4 linked regions of the Homo sapiens genome follow. The protein of the gene in region 4 interacts with the protein of the main gene of each other region in a biochemical or structural test. Each region holds a gene or a part of one and is shown on either strand. Other genes may lie near its edges. The genes, in order: GALNT7, GLT8D1, MAN1B1 and GOLPH3L.

Region 1 (7,575 bases), on a different chromosome or scaffold from region 4:
ATGAGATTAAGGACAAGGAGTATTTCCTTAACAACTAGTACCATGCCTGGTATATAATTGGCACTCAAAAATGTTCAAATAAATCAATATTTAAAATCACACAACAGAATATGATCGGAAATGTAAGGTCATTTTTCACATCATTCACTTCAGAGAAAGGGCAAGAGGCCCAGAGATGGGAAGGAAATAAGAAACATGTTTCTTTTGTCTTGACTCCACAGGTGGACAGACCTAAAACAAGGAAATAGTGCAGATGAGAAAGGACCATCCCAAGTTGTCAAGGCTGTAACAGAATTTAGTGTATGACATATTCATAGTTCAAGACAAAAAGTGGCACAGGGTGAATGGAGCCACAGGTACAAGCTTGCTGGAGTAGAGGCAGAACCCATACCTGGTAAACTGGATCGTTCAGGCTATTTAAAGGGATCCAAAAAAGTCCATGTGTAGATCAGCATTAAAGAGAAGCAGAGATCTCACCATGGGTGGAATATATGCAATAGTCATCGAAGTAAAAGAACCACAAGGGGGAGGAGAAACTCAGGAGTCAGAATCCTCCCTACAGGATTTGTCCTTCTAGCACTGTACCTTAAAAGCTCCTAGGTTAGTCTTTATTAAAGGAAGGCAATAATCCCTTATTTATGCTCTTATTATTTATAAGCTACACTTTAAATTGCTTGTATTACTATTTACCTGGGAAGCCAATAAAAGGGTCTTTCTTGCTCTTCTGATACCTAAGCATTCCTCTTAATGTTAATTATGTTAAGTCTTTAAAATCTACCTTTTGTTTTTGACAAATGACAGAAATTACACTGGATCCACTGAGAAACTTTATCAAGTACACTGAAACAAACAAAAAATCAAGATATCATCACCTTCTTTATCATCACCATATAGTACTGAAATGGGCATTATGGCCCATCCTTTGTTTGCACTAATAAAATATTCCACGAGTTGGCAAGTGATGCTGATGTTCCGCCACCTCTTTAAAAGATCATCAGAAGGGCGGGACATTCTGAACCTAGCTAGTTTTGTCAGTTTTTCGTCAGTTTCTCTACCAGAAAATAGGGGGTTAAACATTTCTAGCTACATGTAAAAAGCCATTTGATGACTTAAAACAAATATCCTCAATTGCAATATTCAGTTATCCTTTGTCAATAAGTCATATTGAGAGCAAAATTATAAAAAGATCACCATCACTCCATGAGCTGAGAAGCTTAAAACCGCAAATGTACTGAAAAGGAAAACTGATACTTTTTATTACCATCAATTTAGATGACTTAGATGGGAATCTATCCCAGATATTACAAAGGGATTCCACTGCTGTAGAGACTTCAAATACTAAAACTTCCAGATTACATCTAATCTCATGATATAGGCGAAGAGCTGATAATGGGATCTCCTCCTAGGATTCTTACTCTTGAAAGGACGCCACAAGCCTTTTTGCCCAACTTCTTGATGCTAACTTTCCAGAAGGAAAGTTAAATAAACATGACATAGAAGCGATGCTCATCACACTTGCAAAAAGCACTTTACAACAGAGAGAGCGACTCGACTCCTCCTGCAGCCCCGCCGCCTCGGCGGTCGTGAGCCCCTCATACCCTCTCCTACCCCCACTGGCAGCCGGCCCAGTTGGCTGTCCCAGCGGGGAGGAGGAAGCAGGTGGTGCAACGGTTCATCCGGGGGGAAGCAGGTCAGGGTCGGGGGCGAGGCCGGTGCGCGCCGCCCGCTGCCGGGTCAGGGAAGCCGCAGTGCCCGCGGTCCCTTCCCCGCGCGGCGCGGCTCCGGGTAACTAATGTTCCGAGGCGCCTGACTAAACCCTCCAAATCCAAGGAATGTCAGCGCTAACACTCGCGCCCTGGGCGGCAGACAAATGCGTCCCAGCGGAGCCGCCGCGAGCTCCGCGCCGCCGCTCCCCTCGGCGTCGGCCTGAGCTAGCCGGCAGCCGGCGCGGGGCGGCCGGGCGCCGACACAAGTTAGTTTTCCGGCCCAAGCAGCCCTGCCGCAGCCAAGGAAGAGGAACTGCTCCTCTTCCCCCGGATAGCGCCCGAGCACTGCCACAGCAGGGGCTTCCCCAGGCGCTGAGGGCTGGGGGCGGCGGGCAGGCGGGGCGGGGACGCCCCTCCGCCATCTCCGGCCAACCGCCCCTCCCTCGCCCAGGGACGCGAGGGGGACCGGCGGTCCGGGCGAGGCCTCGGCCGCGCATCGCACCCCGGCTCCCCGCCGCCGGAGTTGAGGGGGAGGCGCGCTCTCCGTAAGAGCCGGAGGCGGGGCGCCATCGCCCTCCCACTCCCCGGCGGGCGGGCCGGGGGAGCCCGGGGCTGCGAACACCCCCAGACGGGCGGCTGCGGGAGGGGAGGCTGGACCAAGGGGCCTGGTCCACCGGACCAGCGGTGGCGGCATCGGCATCTCGCCTCCTTCAGGCCTGCACGCGCCACAGGCCGCAGCCTGGACCAACCCCGCGTCCCCGGGCCGTGAGCGCTGCGGTCCCGGCCCCCCAGAGCGGGACGCCGGGCGGCCGCAGCCCCCCGGACCCGGCTCTCCGCCCGCTCCGCCCGCAGTCCCGGCGCGGAGAGCGGCCGCCCGAGCCGCTGCCGCGGCAGCGCGGGTGTCGGCGACGGAGCCCGGGGCGGGGAAGAGCGGAGGAAGGGGCGGCGAGGGGGCGGGCCGGCGGCGGCCAGGGAGGTCGGAGTGCGCGGGGCTCGGCACCCCCTCGGCCCGCGCTGCGCCAGCACCACCTGCGGAGCTGCGGTGCCCACGCCGTGCCGCGACCCCGCCGCCCCTGCTCCCTCCACACGCGGGCAAACAAAACAAGTTGCCGGTCGCTGCCGCCGGAGGGGGCCGGGCGGGTCACTCACCCTCATCCTGCTCAGCGGGCTTGGGTCGTCCGGCCGCGGGGTCAGGGAAGACCAGAGGACCACTAGCCCCAGGAAGCTTCCCACCACCAGCAAACTGCGTAAGATGAACCCAATCTTCAGCCTCATCTTCCTCCGGCGGCGAGAGACTCACAGCCCGGCGCAGCCGCCGCCACCGCTCTCCCCTCCCTCCTTCCCCCTCCTCCGGCTCTCCTCCCCCTCTTTCCCCCACCCCTACCGCTACGGCTGCCGCCCTCTCCGCTGCCTGCCCTTTCCAGCTCCAGATCCGGAACTCCCCTCGGCTACACCTTTCCCCGGGCTCTTCCCTCCGCTCCTCCCCGTGGCCCCCTCCCCTCTGGCGGCCACCGCAGAGCTCCGACTGACCCGTGTGCCTCGCTCTGCCAGGCTGCCTTCCTCTCTACCTGCCCCCTTCCAGATCCGCAGTCCCCTGCTCTCCACGCGAGCCCCCTTCACAGTCCCTGCTACCTTGTAACTAACTTGCACTTTTCCCGAGTCCGGTTCTTAGCCTTTGCCCTGCAGCTCAGCTCCTTAAAGCTTTCAGATCCCCAAACTTTTATTGTAATTATGGACAATAACTCCGTCCTTAACGCCTGTGCCCTCCGGGATCCCGTGGCCCGCCGCCCCCTCCGTTGGACCTGGAGTCGCTCTCGTCTGCACCTCTCCCTTAGACCCACTTCCCTGAGCCCCTTGTCGAGAGGCTTTCAGGAAGCCAACCAGGAAGTGGGACTACCGCTGCTGCTGCAGCAGCTCCACGTGGCTGATTTATAGCTGAAGGGTTTTTTTTTTTCCTTCTTATTGATTGTTCTTGCTTTTTCACACGGCTCCTTAAGGTGGTGAATTTGTAACCGAAAGGCCCAGGTGAGATGTGCAAATATCACTGGATTGGAGGAGCTCACTTGGAAAGCCAGTATTCCTCCTGAGCTAATGAAAAGAAAGGCTGTCGTCTTATGCCAAAAGCAATACCAACCTTGTTCACGGGCTGGTAAGTTTCAAATCCAAGGACCACGGATTTCAACTCCACCCTCATTGCGTCCCTCAGATCTGATATTTGCCACTTGATTTCTGCTTTTCAAACGCCTTTTCTGCCTGTGTTACCTAAATTACACAGTAAAGGATATTGGCAAGTGTTTAGCCAAATGCCCCACCCTGAGGAAATAATTTTTCTGCCCATATCTCCCAATAAAGATGTCTATGCCTTTATAGCAGAATGTATGTAATTACATTATCAGTGTACTATATCCTAAACTGCTAATTTAAATTTAAGTCGAACAAAACGTTTTAAGATTTTATCCTAAGTTTTTTGGGGTTTTTTTTCTTTTCTTTTTTTTTTTTTTTTTTTTTTTTTTTTTTTTTTTTTTTTGAGACGGAGTCTCTCACTCTGTCACCCAGGCTGGAGTAGAGTGCAGTGGTGCGATCTTGGCTCACCTCAACCTCCACCTCTCGGGTTCAAGCAATTCTCCTGCCTCAGCCTCCCCCGTAGCTGGGACTACAAGTGCACACCGCCACGCCCAGCTAATTTTTTTTTTTTTTGTATTTTAGTAGAGACGAGGTTTCACGGTGTTGCCCAGGCTGGTCTCGAACTCCTGAGCTCAGGCAATCTGCCTCGTACTCCCAAAGTGCTAGGATTACAGCTGTGAGCCACCACACCTAGGCTATCCTAAGTTTTAAGATGGTAACAGCTGATTCTTTTTTCTCGTACTGTCTCACATCTGCAAGTTTTTTGCTTTAAAACAAAGCTCAGTTATGTAAAGTTTTACAGTGAAACAATTTCAATTATCAAGATAGATAAAGAATTATACCAAACTACCTTCATGTGCTTTTTGGCTTGGCTTACAATAGCTAGTATATCAGGGAGTTCTGTAGATGCCATAATTTCAAAATTTCCACAAAATATCTGAAGTGATATCCTCATGAACAGCATGGTTCCGGAAATGTAGAATGGATTGTAGTTAGGTGTATTATTGGTTGGCTGAAGGACTGTACATCATATTGTATAAAAGTCCACTATATAGAGTACCTGGAAGAGGGACTGTCAAGTGTTAAACACAAATCACTGCTTGACTTAGCATTTATATCAGCCCCTTAGGTTAAAACCAGTTGTTTTAAGTAGAAGATGAGAGATTTTGCCTAAGACCATTTTTTTTGTGTGACAGAGATCTAGAGTGTGTAATTCACGAAGTATGAATCTGCTGGGTAATGTGATATGAAAAGCGAATGCACCATTTCTTGGTGATGATTCAGGTCAGCGTTGGGACCCAGGAATCTCCTGTTAATCAGTACCCTGGTGATTTTGATCCAGGTAATCTGGGCACCACCTTTGGAGAAACACTGAAAGGAAGCAAGGTTGCGGGGGGTGGTTGGGAAAAGTCTTATATGGATATCTTTGGAAGACAGAAATAGGCTCATTTATGGACTCAACTTGAACTGTTCAGAAGTGAGGTGGACTCCTTTTCTTTTTTATTTATTTTTTTTTTGAGTTGAGGTCTTGCTCTGTCACCCAGGCTGGAGTGCAGTGGCACATCCATAGCTCACTGCAGCCTGGAACTCCTGGGCTCAAGTGATCTTCCCACCTCAACCTCCCGAGTAGCTAGGACCACATGTGTGAGTCATCATGCCCAGCTAATTTTTTTTTTATTTTTTGTAGAGACGGGGTCTATTATCTGGTCCTGTTGTCAAGGCTGGTCTCAAACTCCTGGCCTCCAGCGATCCTCCCTTTTTGGCCTCCCAAGATGCTGGTATTACAGGCATGAGCCACCATGGTCCACCCGGACTCCTTTTCATAGGAGACAGTTCCCTAGGCAGAGACTGGGCTTGAAACAGGTAACTTACAAGGCATCCTGTGATCATAAGAGAATAATTCCATTTGAAATCAGCAGCTGAAGTCCACCTGAATAATTAAGTCTTTCACTTGTGTTATTTTCACAGGGGAGACAGTTTTTTATTCTTAAGAAGGTAGGAAGCTTTATTTTTACTGTTATGAGCATAGCTGGGCAAGTATGCAAATGGAAAGTGATACCTATCATCAAAGTATTGAGGATGGTCCTTTGAAGGCCCTAGTATTCTGAGAACATCCTGCCACCACTACCACCCCCCAACTTTAGTTTTACACAGAGAACTTAAAATATGTGTGAAAGAGTATATAGTTATACAGTTGTATATTGATGAATAGGTATATAGTTGTAAAAGTTTATGTTTCTCTGAGTCTTAATAACTTTTAAAAGAAACTGCAAGTAAACTAACACAGGAACAGAAAACGAAATATTGCATGTTCTCACTTATAAGTGGGAGCTAAATGATGAGAACACATGGACACATAGAGGGGAACAACACACACTGGGGCCTATTGGAGGGTGGAGGGTGGGAGGAGGGAGAGGATCAGGAAAAATAACTAATGTGGGTACTAGGCTTAATACCTGGGTGATGAAATAATCTGTACAAACCCCCATAACACAAGTTTACCTATGTACCAAACCTGCACATGTACCCCTGAACTTAAAAGTTTAAAAAAAGTGCAAATATACCTTAAAACATATGCCCATTGCAGTATTTGCTGGGAGGCAGCCTTTGTAGGGTTGACAGAACTCGTTTAGAAAATGAGGAGCTACATTCAAAGCTTCAGTCAAGATAAATCACGTACCTCTCTGAACCTAGGGCTTTTATCTGCCAAATAGTGATTACAATACTCAACCTTATGATGTTCTCAAAAGGAATAATTGAGATCAAGTACATATACAAATATAAAGTACAATTAGTGTAATGGAACAAGTCTCAGGTGCGTGTGGCTATAATTCTTGTTTTATGAATGCTGCAGTTCCTCTAAAGAAGAGGGTAGAGACTAGAACTGAATGAGATGGACATAGAGATGGCCAAGAAAAGCATCGTCCTCTGCCAAGTCATGGGGTCATGTGTGGTGGATGGTGACATGGTGTCCTCAGCTCAGAGTCCAGCTGGGGGCTCAGAAGCAAGGTAACTGAAGGGAGAGAATTATTTGAGCACCTAGTGTGTGTAAGATGCTTCACATTTATTATTTCACCTAACCTCTACACAACCTGTTGTGGGTATTACTGGTCTCAAGCTGGGATTCAAAGCAGGTTTTTCCAACCTCAGAATTCTTGCCAGACTGATTAGCCTTCTGCATCTGGAACATAAATGTTTTCAGGCAGCATAATGTGCAAGAGGTCAGAGCCTAAAGCTTTGTTATTTTTTAATTTCTCCACCATGTCAACTCTGTTACAGGGAAGCCCAGCAGAGGGAATTGTATCCATTTTGGGGCTACACTACCCCAATGCTATGCTGCAGCCAAGCTGAACTTCTAAGTTTCTAAATGTAACTCACTTACCTTCAGGCCTTTGTACGGGGAGTTCTTTTTGCCTGAAATACCTTCTGACATCTTAACATTACGCTTAGATGTCAGTTACAAAAAAGCTTTTTCTAGACTCTCTCACATGTCCCACTCCACACCCCTATATCTCTTCCCACCAATGTACTAGGGTAGGTATCCTGCTAGGTACTTCCACTGCACCCTCTACTTTTCTTCCCTAATGATTACCACTATATTGTAATTGCTTAATTTCTTTTTCCTATACCCAGATAAAAATGTGTATGAAGGTGGAGCCTTGTCTATCTAGTTCGTTATTGTTATCCGTGTCTGGTATGTGGAAAGGGCTCAGTGAGTATTTCTTGATGGAATGCTGAATGAATA
Region 2 (6,888 bases), on a different chromosome or scaffold from region 4:
TGATCATAGCTCACTGCAGCCTTGACCTCCTGGGCTTAAGTGATCCTCCCACCTCAGCCCCTCAAGTAGCTAGGACCACAGGCATGCACCACCACACCTGGCTAATTTTTAAAATTTTTTGTGGAGAGGAAGTCTGTGTTGCCCAGGCTGGTCTCAAACTGCATTCAAGCAGTCCTCCTGCATCGGCCTCTGAAAGTGCTGGGATTATAGGCATGAACCACCACACCTGACTTCCCCCATACTTTCTTATTAATTACCATACTGTATATTTTTATTTTGTTTAAACATCTTTTCTTCCCACTTTTATCGTTTTTACTTGAGTGCTTAATTCATCTTCCTAAATTAATTTAAAAACTCATCTTTAAGACTGTGAATTTTCTTCCGAATATACCTTTGGCCACAGTTCAGAGACTTTGATGTGTTACTCTTTTGGCATTGGTTCTAAAATGTCAATCATTCTTTTTTTTTTTTTTTTGAGATGGAGTCTTCTTGTTGCCCAGGCTGGAGTACAGTGGTGCGATCTTGGCTCACTGCAGCCTACGCCTCCTGGGTTCAAGTTCCCCTCCCTCAGCCTCCCGAGTAGCTGGGATTACAGGCACACACCACCATGCCTGGCTGATTTTCGTTATTTTTAGTAGAGATGGAGTTTCACCATGTTGGCCAGGCTGGTCTTGAACTCCTGACCTCAGGTGATCTGCCTGCCTTGGCCTCCCTAAATGCTGGGATTACAGGCTTGAGGCACCATGCCTGGCCTAAAGTGTCAGTAATTCTGATTTCGGTTTTCTCTTTTAGAAGTTTTGATTTCCACAGACTTACAAAGCTAAGGAAGTTTTATGTCCTTGCTCTGGCTACACTGCAGTGTTACTGAATATCACCTGCACAACCTTTACTGCTTGCAGTTTTTTTTTTCCTGTTGCTTTGTACATGATCCGTTATTCAAATGGCCTTATAGGCATTCAATAAAGGTGAAATGTTAAATACAAAATCACTTGTCTATTAAATTTTATTCAAGGTTCTATATAAGATCTGATAAATGGAACTTTGTGATGGAAATGTTTTATATGGTAGCCACTAGTCACATATAGCTATTGAACCTTTGAATCATGGCTAGTTTTAGAGTTTTATATTTTAATTTTAATTAAATAGACGTGTCTAGTGGCACCATATTGTACAATGCAGTTCTCATTCAATAAATCTTAAGTACTTAACAATGCATCGTGTACTCTTCTATGTACTGGGTAGACAGCAGTGAGCAAAACAAAGTCCCCGTTCTCATGGAACTAATGTTCTAATGACAACTATTAATTACATACCATGAAATGTCTCAAACTCCTGGGCTCAAGTCATCCTCCTGCCTTAGCCTCCTCAAGTGCTGGGATTATAGGTGAGAGCCACTGCACCTGGCCAGAAGCACGAACTTCTAACTTAGGCTTTTATTAATTATCTTCCTTGCAGAATAATCAACAGAAGACCCTTTAGACAAAGAACTTGCACTATGAGGTTTAATTGGAAACATTAAAATGGTTAACTCATAATGAATTATAAAACTTTGATAGTTACATTGTACTATCATTTATGAGGCATTTATTTTTCATTATTTACACCTGAAAGAAACTTCATACTTGTGTGTTCTGTTCCCCATCTCAGAGCAAGATTATGAAGAGAAGGTCTAAACTACTTATATAAATCAAAACCCAACTGGGCTAGAAATGAAGTATAAAGAGAACTAAATCTATACACAGCTGTGCCATAAGAGCATTAGGTGGTTTTAGCTCTTATCTGGGGTATGAAAGCAATTTAGCTCATCTCACAGAAACAAAAGCAGGTGCTGAATCATGAAAACCTCAATTATTTTTAGCATGCCTCTTAATTTTTCTTTCCCCTGGTTTCTTGTCGTCTGTGCTTGATTCTTGAACAGGTAACCACTTGAGAGGATGCCGGCGATAGATGGGCCATGGAGGAAGTGTCAGCTGGGCCAGAAAAGAGGAAATGCATAAATTATAGCTATTAAAAGTTTAAAAAATCATTACGTATAATGCCAGGTTCCCAAATGACTCCTATGCTGAGGGAACAAAAAAACAAAAAAAAAAATCCATATTCCTATAAAGGCTCTGTGCCACCATCCATGCAAAATACTGTATGATGATGGGAACAGGCTCACTGCCTATACAAATGGCTTTAAGACCTAAAAGAAAGGTGGGGGCCAGGCGTGGTGGCTCTCGCCTGTAATCCAAGCACTCTGGGAGGCCAAGGTGGGCGGATTGCTTGAGACCAGCCTGGCCAACACAGTGAAGCCCTGTCTTTACTAAAAATACAAAAATTAGCTGGGTGTGGTGGTGGGCTCCTGTAGTCACAGCTACTCGGGAGGCTGAGGCAGGAAAATCTATTAAACCCGGGAGGCAGAAGGTGCAGTGAGCCGAAATCGCCCCAGTGCACTGCAGCCTGGGCAACAAGAGTGAAACTCCGTCTCAAAAAATTTAAATAAATAAATAAATAAAAGGTGAAGGGACAACGTGAGCACCATGAAAACTCCTGCTGGCTTTGACCTTAAGATTATTAGCCAGAGTAGCCGCCAAAGGAAATAAGCTGTGTCCTTTTATATAGTTCGCACCATCTGACACTATTTTGGCATTCTACTTTTCCAATGATAGCAAAGGGAAACGCTGTTTGGAAGGATGAGGGAAACGTTGGCTTTGGGTCTCACTACTGAGTAGGTCTAACCAAACCAACCCGACTCACAAAACCCAAGCTGCCACTAATACCCACAAATTTCTTACCAAACATGAAAAAGCAAATCCGGCCATAACTATATAGACAGTCCACCCGAACTGTTCAGCCACGTACCCGTAGATAAATCCAACTATCTAGAGACAAATGAAGTATATTAAACACACTCAAACTGAGGGTTGGGAGGGAGGCGGGGGCGGAGATTAAATGTAAAACCAATACTTACTGCAGAAAAAAGAATAATTCCCTGAAACATCTGTTCAGCTAGCTTCTGGCCCTTGTAATCCTGGGGTGAAGCAGAGGAAAAAAAGAATTGGTTCCACCGCCGAGAACATACAATTCCTGCCCTGACCTCACAACTCTGGCACAGGGTAACCCCAACATCAGGGTCTCCCGCTCTCCTAAGGGCCTGGGCAAGATATTAAATTCTGGGCTTCCCGGGAGGAACTGAAACACCCTCACGGAGAATGGACAGGAGATTCTCGCGGAGTAGAAGAGAAGGGGACCCAGGAGGCAATTCGGGAAAGAGGGTGGACGGTAACCATCCGGGCCCGGAACAGCGCAGCACCGGGTCGGTGCTCCAACATGGGCTTCGAAGCTGCCAGGCACAAGAACGGCGTGCAGAGGTCCCCGGGTTGCGCCCTCACCATCTGCGTGGGCAGCGAGCTCAGATGCTCCAGCATGGCTGGCTGAGGAGGCGGGCAGCTGAGCGCGGGTGGCAGGCTGCGAGGCGAGGGCGACCGAGACTTAAGGACCGTGAGGGGTAAGGTCTGGCACTGCGCGTCAGTAGCCGGGCCTTCTAAGCCCGGGAGAGCGATGGCGGCGGCCCCGGAAGCGGAAGTCTCCGACGGGCCGGTACAGCCCGTGTCCCCGCCCCGCGCCATCGCTAGGCGACGTGCGCTTTTGCCGCGCCGTGCTGCCCGCGAGGGCAGCTGAGGTGGTGGTGGCGGCCGCCTTGTCGAGGCATCGCGCGCCCGTGAAGTGTTCGCCGTCAGTGCTGTTGGGTGCCTGGAGCCGCGTCCCCCGTCCCGAAAACTGTCCTTGACAGTACTTGCGCGGCCCAACGGCCGCCGGCGCCCCCGCGTCTCCATGGCGACGGCCTTTTTCCCTGCGAGGACCCCGGCGGCAGGGCTGCCCCGCGGCGCCTGCTTGGCGCGACGCTCTAGCGGTTACCGCTGCGGGCTGGCTGGGCGTAGTGGGGCTGCGCGGCTGCCACGGAGCTAGAGGGCAAGTGTGCTCGGCCCAGCGTGCAGGGAACGCGGGCGGCCAGACAACGGGCTGGGCTCCGGGGCCTGCGGCGCGGGCGCTGAGCTGGCAGGGCGGGTCGGGGCGCGGGCTGCATCCGCATCTCCTCCATCGCCTGCAGTAAGGGCGGCCGCGGCGAGCCTTTGAGGGGAACGACTTGTCGGAGCCCTAACCAGGGGTATCTCTGAGCCTGGTGGGATCCCCGGAGCGTCACATCACTTTCCGATCACTTCAAAGTGTAAGGGGGGCCCTACTGACCCTTGGAATTTAGGGGGGCTACCCTAGGCGGCATCCACAACAGAGAGAATTCCCTTGGAGAGGGGACCCTGGTGCTCGGCTGTCCCTCTCATCCGCGTAGAAAGTCCCTCATCTGGGGGCTCCCGAACTCAGCCCTCTCACATTGTGGCCGGCTTTACTGACCCTCACAGACCCAGGCTGGGCCCTCCCGATAGAGGCCAGCCAAAGGTTCACTCAGCCTCTCTTTCAAGGCTGGTGTATCTCTAAATCTTAGACCCTCCTCCGTTACCGTCAGCCAGGTGGGATGCCCACGTTTTGGAGAGAAACCGTTCTGAGGAACCCGGGCCTCTGGGTCCCAGCTGGCTCTCCGGCCCCCAGGTTATGTATTCTGGGTTGGCCACAAACAGTGGAATTCTAGGCACTCCCGGGACAGGGTGGGACTGCTGTCCTCATTCATGCAACCAGCAAATATTCACGGCACCTTGTTTGTGCCAGACAGCAGACCGAGGACACGGTTGTTACCAAGACCAGGCTGTTGCCTTGGAAGAGCCCAGAGCGTGTCAAGGGAGACAGCCACATCACGCCAGAAATACATGACAGCTGGATTAGCCCTGGGAGAGGGAGGCCCAGATGTGGGAGCTCAGGGGAGGTGCAGCTCAACGTGGAGTTTGGAGGAGGCTACCTTGACCTTTGAATGCCAAGTGGGAGCCAGCCAGATGAAAGGGTAGGAGAAAGTGTTTGTATATCCTCAGTGCCCTTTCATCCTTGCACGTGGCAGAGACCAAACAGTAAAATGCAGACACGTTTGACACTTTTCTGACCTCAGAAGGACTCAGGACGTGTAGAAGGCAGAAAGAGGGATGGGCAAGAGTTTATTCCTGTTTCCTTCTCATGCTCTGTATTTCTTGGTGTGTTTGAAGAGACTTTCTGTTGTGTGTATAAATAGATATATCTCTGTGTGGTCTTTTTTTTTTTTTTTTTTTTTTTTTGAGGCGAAGACTCGCTCTGTTGCCCAGGCTGGAGTGCAGTGGTGCGATCGCGGCTCACTGCAACCTCCGCCTCCTGGGTTCAAGGGATTGTCCTGCCTCAGCCTTCTGAGTAGCTGGGATTACAGGCATGCGCCACCACGCCCGGCTAATTTTTGTGATTTTAGTGGAGACGGGGTTTCACTGTGTTGGCCAGACTAGTCTCAAACGCCTGACCTCAAGTGATCCACCCACCTCGGCCTTCCAAAGTGCTGGGATTACAGGCATGAGCCACCGCGCCCGGCCAGTGCGGTCTTTTTTTTTTGTATCCACAGTTTTGTATCCTTGGATTCAACCAACCACGGACTGAAATTACAGATACAGAGGGCTGACTGTAATATGCCATTTTACATAAGGGACTTGAGCATCCGTGAATTTTTGTATACATGGGGAGTCCTGGAGCCAATCCCCGACTGATACTGAGGACCAACTGTGTTGCTAATCAAATTGTACACAATTATATACTCTTACGAAAATGTAGTTAACTATTACAGATCCAGCGTCTGTGTGCAATTTCGTTTTGAGAATTCCTTCTAACCAGATCAGGAAAGCTCTCTTACCAGGAATAGCCCCAGGAAAGACAATATGGATTAGACGTACTCCATGATAACTGGCGTTTTGCATGTAGGTAACTGTGGAAGTTTTAGGAGCAACTGGTTTCTGCCTTGCCAGTCTACTTAAGTATGTCAGATACTTGATAGAATTGTGTTTTTCTTGTTTCCAGCCAAGTGTGCCTCTTGATCCCGTAACTGCTAACTGGAAGTCAAGAAACTAAAAACATTATCTCTTGTACCATTAATTAAGTGGGATTTATTTGAGTGCAAGATCGTTTTCTCAGTGGTGGTGGAAGTTGCCTCATCGCAGGCAGATGTTGGGGCTTTGTCCGAACAGCTCCCCTCTGCCAGCTTCTGTAGATAAGGTCAGCCCATAATGTGATAGAGGCATATGACTTAGGGTATATACTGATGTATATACTTCTCTTTTTTTTTTTTTTTTTTTGAGACAGAGTCTTACTCTGTTGCCCAGGCTGGAGTGCAGTGGCACGGTCTCAGCTCACTGCAACCTCCGCCTCCCGGGTTCAAGGGATTCTCTTGCCTCAGCCTCTCAAATAGCTGGGATTACAGGCACCTGCCACCATGCCTGGCTAATTTTTTGTATTTTTAGTAGAGATGGGGTTTCACCATCTTGGACAGGCTGGTCTCGAACTCCTGACCTCTTGATCCACCTGCCTTGGCCTCCCAAAGTGCTGGGATTACAGACGTGAGCCACGGCGCCCTGATGTATATGAGAAGAAGTTCACTGACACGTTGTACTTCATATATACTGCTTTGGAAAGGTGTGTGTGGGCTGGGCCTGGTGGCTCAGGCCTGTAATCCCAGCACTTTGGAAGGCCGAGGCAGGTGGATCACCTGAGGTCAGGAGTTCGAGACCAGCCTGGCCAACATGGTGAAACCCTCTCTCTATTAAAATTAGCTGGGCGTGGTGGCGCACACCTGTAGTCCCTGCTACTCGGGAGGTTGAGGCACAAGAATTGCTTGAATCTGAGAGGCAGAGGTTGCAGTGAGCCAAGACGGCACCACTGCACTGCAGCCTGGCTGACAGAGCCAGACTCTGTCTCGAAAAAAAAAAAAAAGGAAAGAAAGAAAGATGTGTA
Region 3 (6,935 bases), on a different chromosome or scaffold from region 4:
GGGCTGAGAGGAGGCTTCGGGTTGGGGCCCAAGGGAGGTGTGGTGTCATCTGGGGAGAACAGGAGGGCATGTCCCTTTGGGAGCCCGCCTTGTGGATCCACCACACCCCACCGAGCACTAGAAGCTGCATAAGCTACACAGGATGTGCTTCTGCAGCCTACAGATGCAGAACCAGAATGAGGGGGACAATTCCACCCACTCGAGGGCTGCCCCCTCTTCCTTAGCAGACGAACCAGTAATGGGGGCAAGGCTGGGGCATCCCAGCCCACACACCCTGGATGCCCAGCAAGGCCACAGAAAGAGCCTGATGTCCATGATCCAGGTGGCTCTGAGAAGCTTGGCCTGGACACCTGAGCCTGCGGCCGGTACTCCTGCCTTCTCCCCATCTATCCCCAAGGCCTCTGCCTCTCAGCCTCTTCCATGGTCGGTTTAGGCTGCTGAGTTTTCTGTGCTTCCCCAAGAACCAGTGGGATCAATGCCGGCGGCCTCTGTGATGGTTGCTGACTAATCCGGGATTTCATGAGTCAGAGGCACCACCCCTCACCCCAGCTGCCTGCTGCTTCTGACGGATCTTGGTGCTCAGGCTGCCTGGCTCTCCGAGTGAGGACGCAGCCTCCATATTTGGTGCACTCAGGCATGGCTGGGACAAGCCAGCTGCCCCAGGGTTCTTCCCCTGGTGATTCTCGCCTGCTTTCTCATCTCAGGGGAGGCAGTGGCACCTCCCTCTCCCTGCTGACATGAAGAGAGCTATGATATGCCACTGCTGCCAACTCATCCTCTGCCCCCACCTCGAAACCCACAGTCCCCAGTGGAGGGCCACTACTCATCCCCATTGGTTTCCCAGGGGAGGGGTGTTGTCTGGAAGGGCAGGTTCAGATGCAGCCTTCCAGATTTAGAGGCACTGGGAGGACAGTGGCTGAGTGGAGGCGCCCAGACCTGGGCAGGCAGCAGGCTCAGGCCCACACCTTGTGATTTTTGAAACCAAAGCCCAGAAGATGATGTTTACTTCTCTCTCCCTGGCTCTGCCCTTCTTACTGCAAACCATGCTGTGCCTTAGGGCCCTTCTCATAGCTGTTCCTCATGGCCATGACTGGAACAGGGATGCAACCTCTTTCTACACAAGCACAGTTAGTTGGGTGAAGTCTTTTTTTTTGTTTGTTTTAGACGGAGTTTCACTCTTGTTGCCCAGGCTGGAGTGAAGTGGCGTGACCTTGGCTCACTGCAACCTCCAGGCCAGCCTCAGCCTCCCTAGTAGCTGGGACTACAGGCACCCACTACCACGCCTGGCTAATTCTTTGTATTTTTAGTAGAGATGGGGTTTGACCGTGTTAGCCAGGATGGTCTCGATCTCCTGACCTCGTGATCCACCCACCTCGGCCTCCCAAAGTGCTGGGATTATAGGTGTGAGCCACCGCGCCGGGCCGGTTGCTGGCATCTTAATGTTCTGTAGGTGGAATATTTCCAATAAACACAAGGTGCCGTAATTGACTGCTACTCTGGCAAGTGCAGTTTTTGGGCAGTGCACGGGTGTTGGGAACAAGGATCAGGTGTTCACAGCTGTGTCCCAGGGCTGGAGCTCACTGGGGGCCCCCTTAGGGACAGGAGTTCACACATGAAGGCCAAGACTACTTGGGGTGCCAAGGAATCCCCCCGCGGTCCCATCCCACTCTTCACCAGGGTCTCAGGAGGGCCTGAGACAACCTGCGGTCAGGAACCTCGGGGCGCTCTCCAGGGCAGGCTTCTGCATGCTCAGCTCTGACAGCCTGGAGACTCGCTCTCCTGCACCTGCATCCTTGAGATGCCAAGGTTTCCCTGCTAACCACGTGAGGATGCTTGGGGTACTCCAGGGACTGACAAGAGTGAGTGGTGTCAACCTAAAGAGAAACTCAGGCTCTCCAGAATAAATGAATTTAATCAAGAATAACACATAATTGCAATGCAGAGTATGCAAGCCTCAGTGGGTCACAGGCATGTGGTGGGGGGGTGGGGTGGGGATTGAGGAAAGGGGGAATTTTTTTTTTTTGAGACTGGATCTCACTCTGTTGCCCAGGCTGGAGTGCAGTGGTGCAATCATGGCTCACTGCAGCCTCGACCTCCTGGGGCTTAGGTGGTCTTCCCACCTCAGCCTCCAGAGTAGCTGGGACCACAGGTGCACACCACCACACTGGACTCATTTTTTTATTTTTTGTAGAGACAGGGGTTTCACCATGTTGCCCAGGTTGGACTCCTGAGCTCAGGGGATCTGCCCACCTTGGCCTCCAAAAGTGCTGGGATTACTACAGGCATGAGTCACTGTGCCCCGCCCACGGGAAATTTCTTTTTTTTTTTTTTTTTTTTTTTTGAGACAGAGTCTTGCTCTGTTGCCCAGGCTGGAGTGCAGTGGTGCCATCTCGGCTCACTGCAACCTCCACCTCCTGGGTTCAAGGAATTCTCCTGCCTAAGCCTCCCGTGTAGCTGGGACTACAGGTGCCTGCCACCAACCATGCCCTGCTAATTTTTTTGTGTTTTTTGTAGAGACGGGTGTCTCACCATGTTGGCCAGGCTAGTCTTGAACTCCTGACCTCAAGTGATCCACCTGCCTCGGCCTCCCAAAGTCCTGGGATTACAGAAGCCACCGCGCCTGGCCCCAAGGGGAATCTTTTAAAAAAGAGAAGTTCCCATAAACTGCTTTGAAACCATAAAGACCAAAGGTTAGAAGGGTTTGCCGCAGGCGCTCCGTTGCTAATGTTTTTGTGAGGGCTTCTTCAGGGCCTCTTGTTAGAGTGTGACATAAACGACTTCATTTGGGTACCAGCAAGTGTCACAGGGGGCAGAGACCAGCAGAAACCTAAAGATGACCCCTAGAAGAGCAGGAGGCCAGGGGAACAGAGTTAGACGAGCCACGTGCTAAGCAGGACGTCGCTGCCGGGGGAGCTCTCCAGACACGCAGAAATGCCACAGTCAGGACCGTGGGACGCAGCGGATTCGCCCAAGGGCAGGAGCAGCCTGGCCAGGAGAGAATGAAGGAGGGGCCGGGCGTGAGGTTCGGCTGGGGAGAACCCAGGCAGGGAGGGCCTCGGGCGGCCACGGACGCCGCTTTGCCATTTTGGGCGTTTCTGGGGAGGACAACGCGTGCAGGAAGCGCAGTCATCTCAAGCTGACCTCCAAGGTTACCGAGTTCGAGGGCTGGGAGCCGGGTCTGAAAGCCCCGACCCGCCTATGGCGCGGGGACTGTGGGTCCAGCCGGCCGATTGGCCGCCTCGCTCGGCGCCGGTCCAGGCGCAGCGCTCGGGCCCCGGGGACCGTGAGATGCGGCGCAGCCAGCTTAGCTCGGGGTAGCAGCCACCCCAGCCCGGGTGCCGCCCGGCCTGGTCCGCGACTTCGGGAGGGTCCGGTCCTTCCCCCGGCCCCCACGCCTGGGTGAGGCCCTGGGCTTCTTGCCGGTGACCACGCGGCCAGGGTGGGCACCAGCCCAGGACGGCGCCCAAGGGCAGCCCAGCTCCATCCCCGCGCCGCGGGTTCCGGAACCGAGGCGCGGGACGCTGGGACTCTCTGCCAACATGGCGGCCCCGCCCGGGCGCCTCCCCGGGTCCCTAGTGTCTGCGTCTCCCGTGAGGGCGTGGGCAAAGTCGGTGCAGCCAGACGACAGGAGGCGAGAGAAGCCCAGCTCCAGGCCCATGAGGCGAACCACGTGGGAGCCCCAGACAGCGACCACGCCCCAGGCGAACCAAGGCCCGCCCCGTTGCTACAGCTACGCTCGTAGCACACCTGGGCAGGCGCTGCCGGACGCATGCGCAATGAACCTGAGGGCAGGGCGGAGTCGCAGCAGTTGTCTGACGCAGTCGCCGTAGGACGCAGCCCCGTACGCTGGAGCGCAGCGGAGACAGGCGCGGGCGCACTGGCCGCATAGAGACGCAGCGCACGCGCAGTCGCGTATCCGTGTGATGGGCGGGCTGTTGACGGCGCTGCGATGGCTGCCTGCGAGGGCAGGAGAAGCGGAGCTCTCGGTTCCTCTCAGTCGGACTTCCTGACGCCGCCAGTGGGCGGGGCCCCTTGGGCCGTCGCCACCACTGTAGTCATGTACCCACCGCCGCCGCCGCCGCCTCATCGGGACTTCATCTCGGTGACGCTGAGCTTTGGCGAGAACTATGACAACAGCAAGAGTTGGCGGCGGCGCTCGTGCTGGAGGGTGAGGGTCGCGCCGGGCTGACTGGGGCCCGGGGCTGCCGTGCCCGCCGCCCTCCCAGACTGCGGCTCCGAGCGGGACCTGGGCGGGCGGACTCGACTCCCCAGGCGCCGCCCTCTCCACCCCTTCCCCGCAAAAAGGGGCAAATGTGCGTTCCTGGTTGGGGCAGCCGTGGGCGGCTCGCCTGCAGCGGTCTCAGCGGCCCAAATTCTGCGGGGCGGTGGTGGGAAGAGGGCTCAGAGCCCCAGCAGGTTTTCTGGGCTTCGTTCGCTTTTCTGCAAGGTCCTGGCCCAGGCGCCTGCCCCTCTTGGAGCGGAAACCGGAGGTTCCCCGTGGTGTATGCTCCCCTCGGTACAGTGAGAAATGAGCCCCTCTTGATTGGCTCCTGGTCTGTTCGTGGTGGTCTCAGGCCGAAGGGCATTGATAACCACATGCGGACTGTGCATCGCCTGGGCGGTGCCTGGGCTACATCTGTGGGAGTCGCAGGAGTCTTTCTCCACTGTTGATGAAATGTGACAGAAATGTTTCTGCTTTTTTCTTATCCTCGTCTCATCTGCACCACTGTATTAACGACATCTGTAGTATTGTCCCAGCAATGTTCCTACTCCCTGCTGAGAGGGAACTTCTCCCCATTCAAAATAAATAGAGCTGGCCGGGCACGGTGGCTCATCCCGCGTTCCACCCACTACACTCCAGCCTAGGTGTAACAGAATGAGACCCTGTTTCCAAAAAAAAAAAGAAATAGAGCTGAACACTGGATCTTCCAGAAGAATTCCTTATTGTCCTCACAGTTTGTGACAGTTGAGACGTTCCGTGTGATATATTCAGTAAGAAATGTCATTCTCTGTACCTCCCTTAGAAATGGAAGCAACTGTCGAGATTGCAGCGGAATATGATTCTCTTCCTCCTTGCCTTTCTGCTTTTCTGTGGACTCCTCTTCTACATCAACTTGGCTGACCATTGGAAAGGTATCAGAAACACGTGTACTTGAAAACGATATCTGTGTTGAGGGTTGATTGGGCAGAAGCAATCTTGCATTCTACCTTAAACAGCTCCAGGAGGCATATATGGCAACGAATTGGCAAGAAATCAAGATAAAGAGAAAGGTAGAGCTGTATGTAACCACCTGGCTAGAACACAGATGTTAATTTGATGCTGTCTGACTACTTTCTAGGTCTCTGGTGTAAGTACTGATATGTCCAGCCTCCCTTATAGAGTAAGTCAGCTGGTGGGCTTGAACACTCAGCCTAAATAACCACACAAATTTCGTAGCACTCATTAGCGTGTGTTTGGAAAAGACCAGGCAGAGTTCTGGTGAGGATGTGGAGAATCTCTTCTCACTTGGTCTAAGATGCTTCTCTTTGGAGCAAAGCTAAAGGGCTCCTGCCCACCTGCCACATGCTGAACGTCCCTGAATGGAAAATAGGAAGGCAAAAGATGTGGGGTTCTGTGTTATGGACAAGGACACAAACTGCCAAGTGTTTTGAAAAAGATTTCATTCCCTTGGGACATTGTTGAATTCATTTCAGTGACTATCAGGTATCATAATGTTGATTTGTAATGGATAGTGCCTGCCAAGTGTTTTTATAAAGCAGTTTAAATCTCTTGTAGGCCTTGTGGCATATTTGAAATAAAATAGCTTCTGTTATTCAGCTCTGGCTTTCAGGCTAGAGGAAGAGCAGAAGATGAGGCCAGAAATTGCTGGGTTAAAACCAGCAAATCCACCCGTCTTACCAGCTCCTCAGAAGGCGGACACCGACCCTGAGAACTTACCTGAGATTTCGTCACAGGTACTTTGAGCAAATGGTGTGGGGTTATAACTGGGGTTCAATCCAGAGGCATTTCAAACCACTGAAGATTGAGAAGAATTATTTTCCTTTACCATTTATTACCACGTGTTTACCTCTCTCTCGTTTTGGACTGGTCGGATAATACTTGGGGAAAGAGAGGCGTAGTCTTTGCTTCATTCTTTTTGAAGACCAGCCATGGCCAGTTCCGGTTTTACTTCTGACTGTGCAGTGTTGAATAAGACAGACCTGTTTCCTCTCAAGAGGCCACAGCTGGTAGGAGAGGCTGGTGAGAAGCCAGGCACAGATGGGCAGAGGCAGATGGCACATGGTGTACATCCTATGTGGAAAAGAGCAGGGCGCTGGTGAAGAACAGTGGCTGGTCCTGAGGGTTCAGGGGAGGCCGTGGCACTGAGGGCAAGATCTGAGGGCTGAGAAGCTGCTGGCACCGGGCAAGGTGGGGAGAGGCAGACTTGAGCCTGAGTGAAACTGCCTGAGGCAAGGAGGACCTTGGCATATGCGGGAAGGTGAAATTCCCAGGGCTGGGAGAGGGAGCAGGGGTTGGCTCAGTCCAGCTGTGGTCCTGCAGGTCCTGGAGGCAGCATGGAGGGTCCAGTTGATGTATGCGGGAAGATTTTGGCGTGGACTGGAGGTCTGAGATGTTTACTGTGAAACTGCTCTGGCTGGGTGGAGACACAGTGGAGGGCAGGAGGCCAGGAGAGCTGCCTGGCCGTGGGAAAAGCTGAGTGGGGGGAGGAGTGCTCCGCAGGAGTGGGCCTTGGGAGAAGGAGGGTGAGTCCCCGGGTGGAGGGGCCAGCAAAGGCTGTGCAGGCTCTGGCTTGGGGACACTGAGGAGCTCCGTTTTGGATCTGCCCACTGTGAGATGTCTGGGAGGCGCCATGGAGACCTTGGTGGGCAGGTGGTGCCAGGATCAGAGTCTGCCAGGGGAGACAGGTTTTAGGAGTCCCTAGGTATAGGTGGTT
Region 4 (7,049 bases):
ATGTAACATTAAGATGATTTAGGGACATAAATTTATTTCTGAAATTGCACATGTTTTTGGATATGAACTCTGAGCAAGTGTACTCCTGATTTTGAGAATTATTACTGAATTGTGGTTAGAAAAGGGCAAGAAATGAAAATATTCATTATTATATATACTAAGGAAGTTATCATTGGAAAGCTCATTTCAAGCATCAGAAAAGAAGTATATCCTTTTAGAGAATAGTTGTATGACACCTAATCATTAGTCATTTTCCAATATTCATTTTAATAACTATATATACAGCATTATTCACAATAGCCGAAAGATGGGAAAAACCTAAATATACATCAACAGATGAATGGATTAAAAAATGTGGTATATTCATACAATTGAATATCAGCCATAAAAAAAATGAAGTGCCAATACATGCTACAACTTAGATGAACCTTGAAAACATGCTAATTAAAGGAAGTTACTCACAAAAGTCCACATATTGTATTATTCCTTTCATTTGAAAGTCAGAACTGGGAAAGTTATTGAGACAGTCTTAAGGCTGGTGGGAGGATGGCAGAATAAGAGAGTGATAGCTAAGGTATATGGGGTTTGTTTGTGGGGTGATGAAAGTGATGTAAAATTGATTGTAGTGATGGTTGTACAACTCTGTGAAGGTACTGAAAATCATTGAATTGTACACTTATAAATGGGTGAATCATATAGTATCTAAATTATATCTCAATAAAGCTGTTTTTTAAAAAAATTGTATATCCAGCTGGGCACTGTAGCTCATTCCTGTAATCCCAGCACTTTGGCAGGCTGAGGCAGGAGGATCCCTTGAGGCCAGAAGTTTCAGGCTGCAGTGAGCCATGATGGTGCCACTGCATTCCAGCCTGGGTGACAGAGGGAGACCCTGTCCCTAAAAAGTAAATAAATAAATAAATATTGCATATCGTTGCATAAGATTGAAAAATCAAGTGTTGGCTGTTCTTTGAGAAATAACCAATTAGTAATTATTCTATCTTTGTGGAGGCAAATGGAAATCAACCAGTAAAATCTTCCAAAGAAAATCGGAAGAGAAGTCAACATGAATCTGGGAGAATAGTAAGTCTTATGATAATGTATAGTTTGAATACAATGGGAAGGATCAGAATATCATTACTACAGATTAAATTTAAAATGATGAATTTGATATCTTTCGATGTACCTGAGAGTTCTGATATTCAAATTTTGTTTAAATATATTTTGTTCTAAAAATCGAGGTGATTTTGAAATAAGATGCCCTATGTTGGTTTATTAGTTTTTTCCATGTAAACATCTCCTGTCTCATTCCATGAATGATTTAAAGTAATTGGAGGAATTTATAATATATAAATTAAAAATCAGCTGGGTGCAGTGGCTCATGCCTGTAATCCCAGCACTTTGGGAGACTGAGGCAGGTGGATCACGAGGTCAAGAGATCGAGACCCTCCTGGCCAACATGGTGAAACCCTGTCTCTACCAAAAATACAAAAAAAAAAAAAAATAGCTGGGCGTGGTGGCGCACGCCTGTAGTCCCAGCTACTCGGGAGGGTGAGGCAGGAGAATCGCTTGAACCTGGGAGGTGGAGGTTGCAGTGAGCCAAGATCGCGCCACTGTACTACAGCCTGGCGACAGACCAAGACTCCGTCTTTAAAAAAAAAAAAAATCAGTGCCAGGAAAAATATAAGAGAATATAGAATGAGAAAGTGACAGTACAAGAATACTAAGGCCATTTTGTTTATATAGAACTGAAATTGGGCCACAAATTTGATCTGAGCTTTCTAGAGATCAAAACTGAAGTAGAAGGAGGATAATTTACTAAATACATGTGTTCCCTAAAAATATAGGGTCTCCTCCTAGTACCTCTGGAGAAAAAAATATTTTCCTGACTTAAACCCTATAGTTGTTTCATATTTAGAACCTTATTTTACCAAATCAGATAATGTATTTGCCATTTCTGAGATAATTATTCATATTTTTCCAACTAGATATTTTAGTATTATTAGTAGGTTAGAATTAAACAACTGAAAACCTAAGACTATTTTTAAAACTCAAATGTTAACGTCTCAAGAGTACAAAAGCAAGACATGATTTAAATCGTACATGATTCCAAGGTAGAATGTTTTTCTATTTGTAGTTCATTTTAAAATCTTTTTTCCCTTCTTATTGCTCTGAAATATTTGGCTATTTTGAGGACATAATGTTAAATCTATCTTCTCACTTCTAGAGCAGCCCTACTGAAGATTATACATTTTGCAAGTACATACTTTCAGCAGCCATTGGAAGATGTTAATAATAAATTTTACTCTACTTTTAAGAAACCCAGATATAGTTATGCTAGGTATGCTAGGCATAAATTTTTTTAAAAAGAAGAGAAATCTCAGATACATGAAAAAATCTACAATTAAAGACATTTAAACAGGAAAGTATCTATTCTTAGTAGTTGTTTTCTTTTGACAGGTCCTCCATCACTTTGATTCTTCTAGTCAAGAGTCAGTGCCAAAAAGGAGAAAGTTTAGTGAACCAAAGGAACATATATAAAAATTATTTTTGTTCTGCAGGCTTGCAGAGTTCTTCTCACCATTTAAACTGAAGGACCCTATATTATATTTCCCTAACTCTGAAGATGTATATGTAGTTTAAAGCAGTTTGTACACTAAAACTAAGTTTTTGGCTGACTGTCATATTGTGGTCCTTAATCTTGAGATAAATCCAATAGAACTTTTGAATAAAAGCAAAAGTACAAATGTCATAATTGATTCGGTAATAAGTAAAATTTCAAAATTGATTTTGTTCATTACCTACTTAATATTTCCTTTAAATATATACTAACTGTTAAGGCCCTCTAATGCCATTTTTCTAAACAGTAATGTTTACTTTGGTATTAAAATTTGGTATGGATTCACTTTTTACTTATGTTAAAATTATACCATTTAACTGGCTCTTTTGTCATTGTGCTGTTATTAAAACAATGTTCTTCAATATTTTGACATAATGTATTAACATTTTAATATATAATGTACAATTTAAGAATTGGTGCTTTACCTTTACTATGCTTTTTTTTACAGGACAAAAAGACTGATTTTTAAAGTATGGCATTTTTTGCAGCATAAATAAAATATTGTTCAGTACGTAGGCCCTTTTATCGCTTCTAATTTTTATTTAAGTAGCAGGAAATATGGCTTCATTCATTTGAAAGGCTGGTAGGAGGATGGGGGGATAGGGAATACTAATTTTTAGATGATTTCGGTAGCTATTACTTTGCAAGAAGAGTTGAGCACACTTTCTAGAATTTTTGAGTGGTAGTATGAAAAATGCTGTGCTTTTAATGAGAAACCTGGGAGCTAGTTCCAGCCTTGCCTGCTTTCTTTGCTTTAGAAAAAGGAAGACTTAAAACTTGGTCTGTTTGCCGCTTGTAGTTTCAGCAGCCATATTCCAAAAACATACACATCCATGGGTTTGTCAGTAATAAGCGCTATAGGGAATGCTGGTACATATGCGATGGTAGAAATGTATTCATCCTGTTTAAGGTAAACCATATAAACGTACACAAACTGACCCAGATCATGTTTTTCTGGAACAGTCAAGTCAAGGATAAACTGACTGTCAGAAACAACCAATGTAAAAATATTTATTTATTTTTAGCTGTATTGCTTGGATCCCAACACATCTCACTTAATTGTCCCAGTATACGCTACTACAGCAACACACCTGCTACGCTGAAATTAACCCACAGAAACCTTTCGAGATTGGCAGCCCATGTTAGCTCACTCAGCGCTTTGATTGGCTGGTTTAATGGGGGTGGGGAGCGCAGCCCTCTTTCCTCTCTTCCACCAAGGTTCCTTCATTGGATTGACCAGCTGTCAGGTTGAACGCAAACCTGCCTCCTTTTGGTGGTGTTTGTCTGGATCGCAACAGAATAGCTGGGGGAGAGCCTCCCCCTGTGAGCTCCGATTGGCGGGACTCAACCTTGGTGATTTCTGATTGGCGCAATGAAGAAACACCAAGGTAGGTTGCCTAGTGATCCTGAGGAAGCTGATGTGTTATTCCTTCTCTGCATCGAAGGATCAGGAAGTTTGTGCTCTCTGCGTGGCTAAGTTTTTCACCTACTAGGACGGGGGTGGGGTGGGGAGAACAGGTGTCCTTCTAAAATACAGCACAAGCTACAGCCTGCGTCCAGCCATAACCCAGGAGTAACATCAGGTAAGCAACGAGAAAATTACATTTCCTAACGTCCCTTCCCCCCACCAAAAAAAACCTCTATTTTTTAAAATTATTATTTTATGGGAGGGAAAGGTTTGTATTCATTTGGGCCATTTGTTTTCTTTCAAGTAGGATTTTTAACTAGTAAATGTGCAGATGAAACTAATTTCTCAAAGAAACCGCCCCCTCTCCCCCTCCCCCCCTGCCCCGCGAAGGTTTAAAGTTTCTTGGATTGGTTTAGGAAATAGTCCCTATTCACAGTGCCAGATAGGCTTAGTGCGCTTAAGAATTTATTTCATGGTTCTCTTCCTCCTTCACTTTTCTTCCCACCTCCCATAACAAATTATATTTGAAATATACCCTTGTACAAAAAAACTTTTGTAGCTCACTTCATTTGTATTTCTATTTTAAATGTTCACATGCACTTCTGAGTATTCATTTTAATCAATATAAATTTATCGAGCAATAACAATGTTAAAGACAGTGCTAGTTGCTATGGAGAATATATAAACCCAAGAAGACAATATCCCTGTTCTTAAGAAGTTTACAGTTGAGAGACAGCTATACCAAGAGAAAGACTATAATAAATACTTTAAAGGAAGTGAGTATAAATAAAGCTCTGTGAAACAGCTGAGGGAGTGGCCATGAGACACATAGGTAATAGAAAAGAGGAGGTCACTTAAAGGCCTTCACAAGGCCTTTAAAGAATGGGTAGAATGTAAAGAGGAAGAGAAAAGGGTGAAGACCCCAGCAAGTACAGAGGAGCAGAAGCAGAAAGAAAGCATGAGACATTTTTGAGAAAAAGTCTGGCAACACTACTTATTAGGAGCAATGGGAAATATTGCTAGAGGAGTAGAAACGAGTCCAGTCATAGCAACTCTTAAATACCATTATTTTGATCTTGAAAAAGATACTCCTTTATATAATTGCTGATTTAAAATATTTGTTATATATTATCTTAAAAACTGATATCTAGATTTATATAAAATAAAGTATGCTAACTATAAACTTTATCACAAATGATTTAGTGCAGTTTCTTTTGACCGTAGTACATAGAATAAAAGACATGTTCTTTGACTTTTTTTTTTAAATTGAGAAAATTTGTTAATCTTTCAACACTCTCTTGCCAGTAATTTTTGTTTGCAGCTCCTTGTGTATTTGCAAGATATGGCTAGCTAGGACTAGAGCTGCTAAGTTTACTGACTGTGGAATTACTACACATGATTTTCTGAATGTTATCGTCTAGACTTGTGATCTCCAAAGTGAGTACATGAAATGAGTCATTAGGGTATGGGAAGGAAATATAGAACATGTATTTCTATTTAGTTTTTCGTATTCTTTTTTACTTTCTATTTTTTGTGTTTTTTTATAATGTAGTACCATGGAACGTTTATAGAAATTAGATACAAATTATTATATGCATTTTGGGGCTGGATGCTCACAATTTTTTGTTGTTCCATCTTACTTAACTTGGGATCCATTTTGTGAAAGAGGAGTGACAATGGTGGATATTCACTCCTTCTTTATAGATTATGCAGAAAAAATCAGCAGGTTTGGCCGGGCCTGGTGGCTCATGCCTGTAATCCTAGCACTTTGGGAGGCCCAGGCAGGCAGATCACTTGAGGTCAGGAGTTCAAGACCAGCCTGGCCAACATGGTGAAACCCCATCTCTACTAAAAATACAAAAATTAGCCAGACATGGTGGCGCACACCTGTAATCCCAACTACTCAGGAGGCTGAGGCACAAGAATCACTTGAACCTGGGAAGCGGAGGTTGCAGTGAGCCAACATCGCACCACTGCACTCCCAGCCTGGGCAACAGAGCAAGACTCCCTCTCAAGAAAAGAAGAAGAAAAAGAAAAAAAGAAGTCAACAGGCTTGAAAGATGAGCATTTCTACTGGACTTTAGAATTACTCATTTGATCTTTTGTCAGTGCCATCTGTGAAGTCCAAGCTATTGTACTTTGGAAAAGATACTGTATTACCCACCCATTTTTTTCTGGTCATTACTCCTTCCTTTCTTTCTATATTTAAATCTGTAAATATTTCCTATTTGTATGGATGTTTAGTATGCATGTATGAATATATGATTTATTTACATAAGCATACATATGGATTTTTTTTTTCACCACTCCCTCCAGAAACAGGTGAGAATGACCACTTTAACTCACCGGGCCCGTCGCACTGAAATAAGCAAGAACTCTGAAAAGAAGATGGAAAGTGAGGAAGACAGTAATTGGGAGAAAAGTCCAGACAATGAAGATTCTGGAGACTCTAAGGATATCCGCCTTACTCTTATGGAAGAAGTATTGCTTCTGGGACTAAAAGATAAAGAGGTAATGCAGTTAGGTTTGCTAGGCTATCTCAAAGACTATTAAATATTGGAATGTTTTAGGAAGTAACCTAATGGAATATATTTAATAATAAATTGGTCTTAGAATTGTGCTCTAACCATCTGGAAGATGGAGGAGTTGGGACAGTGACCGATACTTGGAGGGTAAAAATCCAGAAGTAGAATTACGTGAAGTGTATTTAATTACAAAATTACTCCAAAATTTTAGAAGATACAGGAGAGGAGGATATAGTATAAAGTTTTGTACTTGTAGTTTCCCAAGTTAGATTAAAGGCGAAATAATACCGTTTATTAAAGTAAGAACAAGGGCCCACACACTGAAGTCTTCTTCAGCTTTGAGGAGAAATAGTCTTTTACATGAAAAGACAAGGAACATGTGTGATTAGTTGCCTTACAGAAATAAACAATTGGTAGGTTTCTTATAGCAGAAATAATTTTTTATTTTCCTCTGTGCATCTTTATAAGGCAAATATCAACAGTTGGATTACGCGGTGGC

The links.
Region 1: the proteins of GOLPH3L (region 4) and GALNT7 form a complex in vitro, tested with the Homo sapiens proteins (one study listed by BioGRID).
Region 2: the proteins of GOLPH3L (region 4) and GLT8D1 form a complex in vitro, tested with the Homo sapiens proteins (one study listed by BioGRID).
Region 3: the proteins of GOLPH3L (region 4) and MAN1B1 form a complex in vitro, tested with the Homo sapiens proteins (one study listed by BioGRID).

Annotation. Positions count from the first base shown.
Region 1 is NC_000004.12:173,164,242-173,171,816, reverse strand, and holds the start of GALNT7 (N-acetylgalactosaminyltransferase 7), read right to left. Parts: upstream 3,007-7,575; 5' UTR 2,982-3,006; coding exon 2,856-2,981; exon of another isoform or gene 2,165-2,855; intron 1-2,164. UniProt on the Homo sapiens protein: Glycopeptide transferase involved in O-linked oligosaccharide biosynthesis, which catalyzes the transfer of an N-acetyl-D-galactosamine residue to an already glycosylated peptide.
Region 2 is NC_000003.12:52,702,769-52,709,656, reverse strand, and holds the start of GLT8D1 (glycosyltransferase 8 domain-containing protein 1), read left to right. Parts: upstream 1-3,865; 5' UTR 3,866-4,210; intron 4,211-4,704; exon of another isoform or gene 4,705-4,933; intron 4,934-5,728; exon of another isoform or gene 5,729-5,858; intron 5,859-5,958; exon of another isoform or gene 5,959-6,153; intron 6,154-6,888. Other genes in the region: SPCS1 (signal peptidase complex subunit 1), read right to left, coding at 1,845-1,970, 2,778-2,864, 2,954-3,013, 3,375-3,410.
Region 3 is NC_000009.12:137,083,051-137,089,985, forward strand, and holds the start of MAN1B1 (endoplasmic reticulum mannosyl-oligosaccharide 1,2-alpha-mannosidase), read left to right. Parts: upstream 1-3,934; 5' UTR 3,935-3,949; coding exon 3,950-4,168; intron 4,169-5,024; coding exon 5,025-5,133; intron 5,134-5,217; exon of another isoform or gene 5,218-5,348; intron 5,349-5,818; coding exon 5,819-5,955; intron 5,956-6,935. UniProt on the Homo sapiens protein: Involved in glycoprotein quality control targeting of misfolded glycoproteins for degradation.
Region 4 is NC_000001.11:150,694,143-150,701,191, reverse strand, and holds the start of GOLPH3L (Golgi phosphoprotein 3-like), read left to right. Parts: upstream 1-4,037; 5' UTR 4,038-4,200; exon of another isoform or gene 4,201-5,432; coding exon of another isoform or gene 5,433-5,462; intron 5,463-6,341; coding exon of another isoform or gene 6,342-6,353; coding exon 6,354-6,536; intron 6,537-7,049. Other genes in the region: HORMAD1 (HORMA domain-containing protein 1), read left to right, coding at 1,009-1,080, 2,458-2,538. UniProt on the Homo sapiens protein: Phosphatidylinositol-4-phosphate-binding protein that may antagonize the action of GOLPH3 which is required for the process of vesicle budding at the Golgi and anterograde transport to the plasma membrane.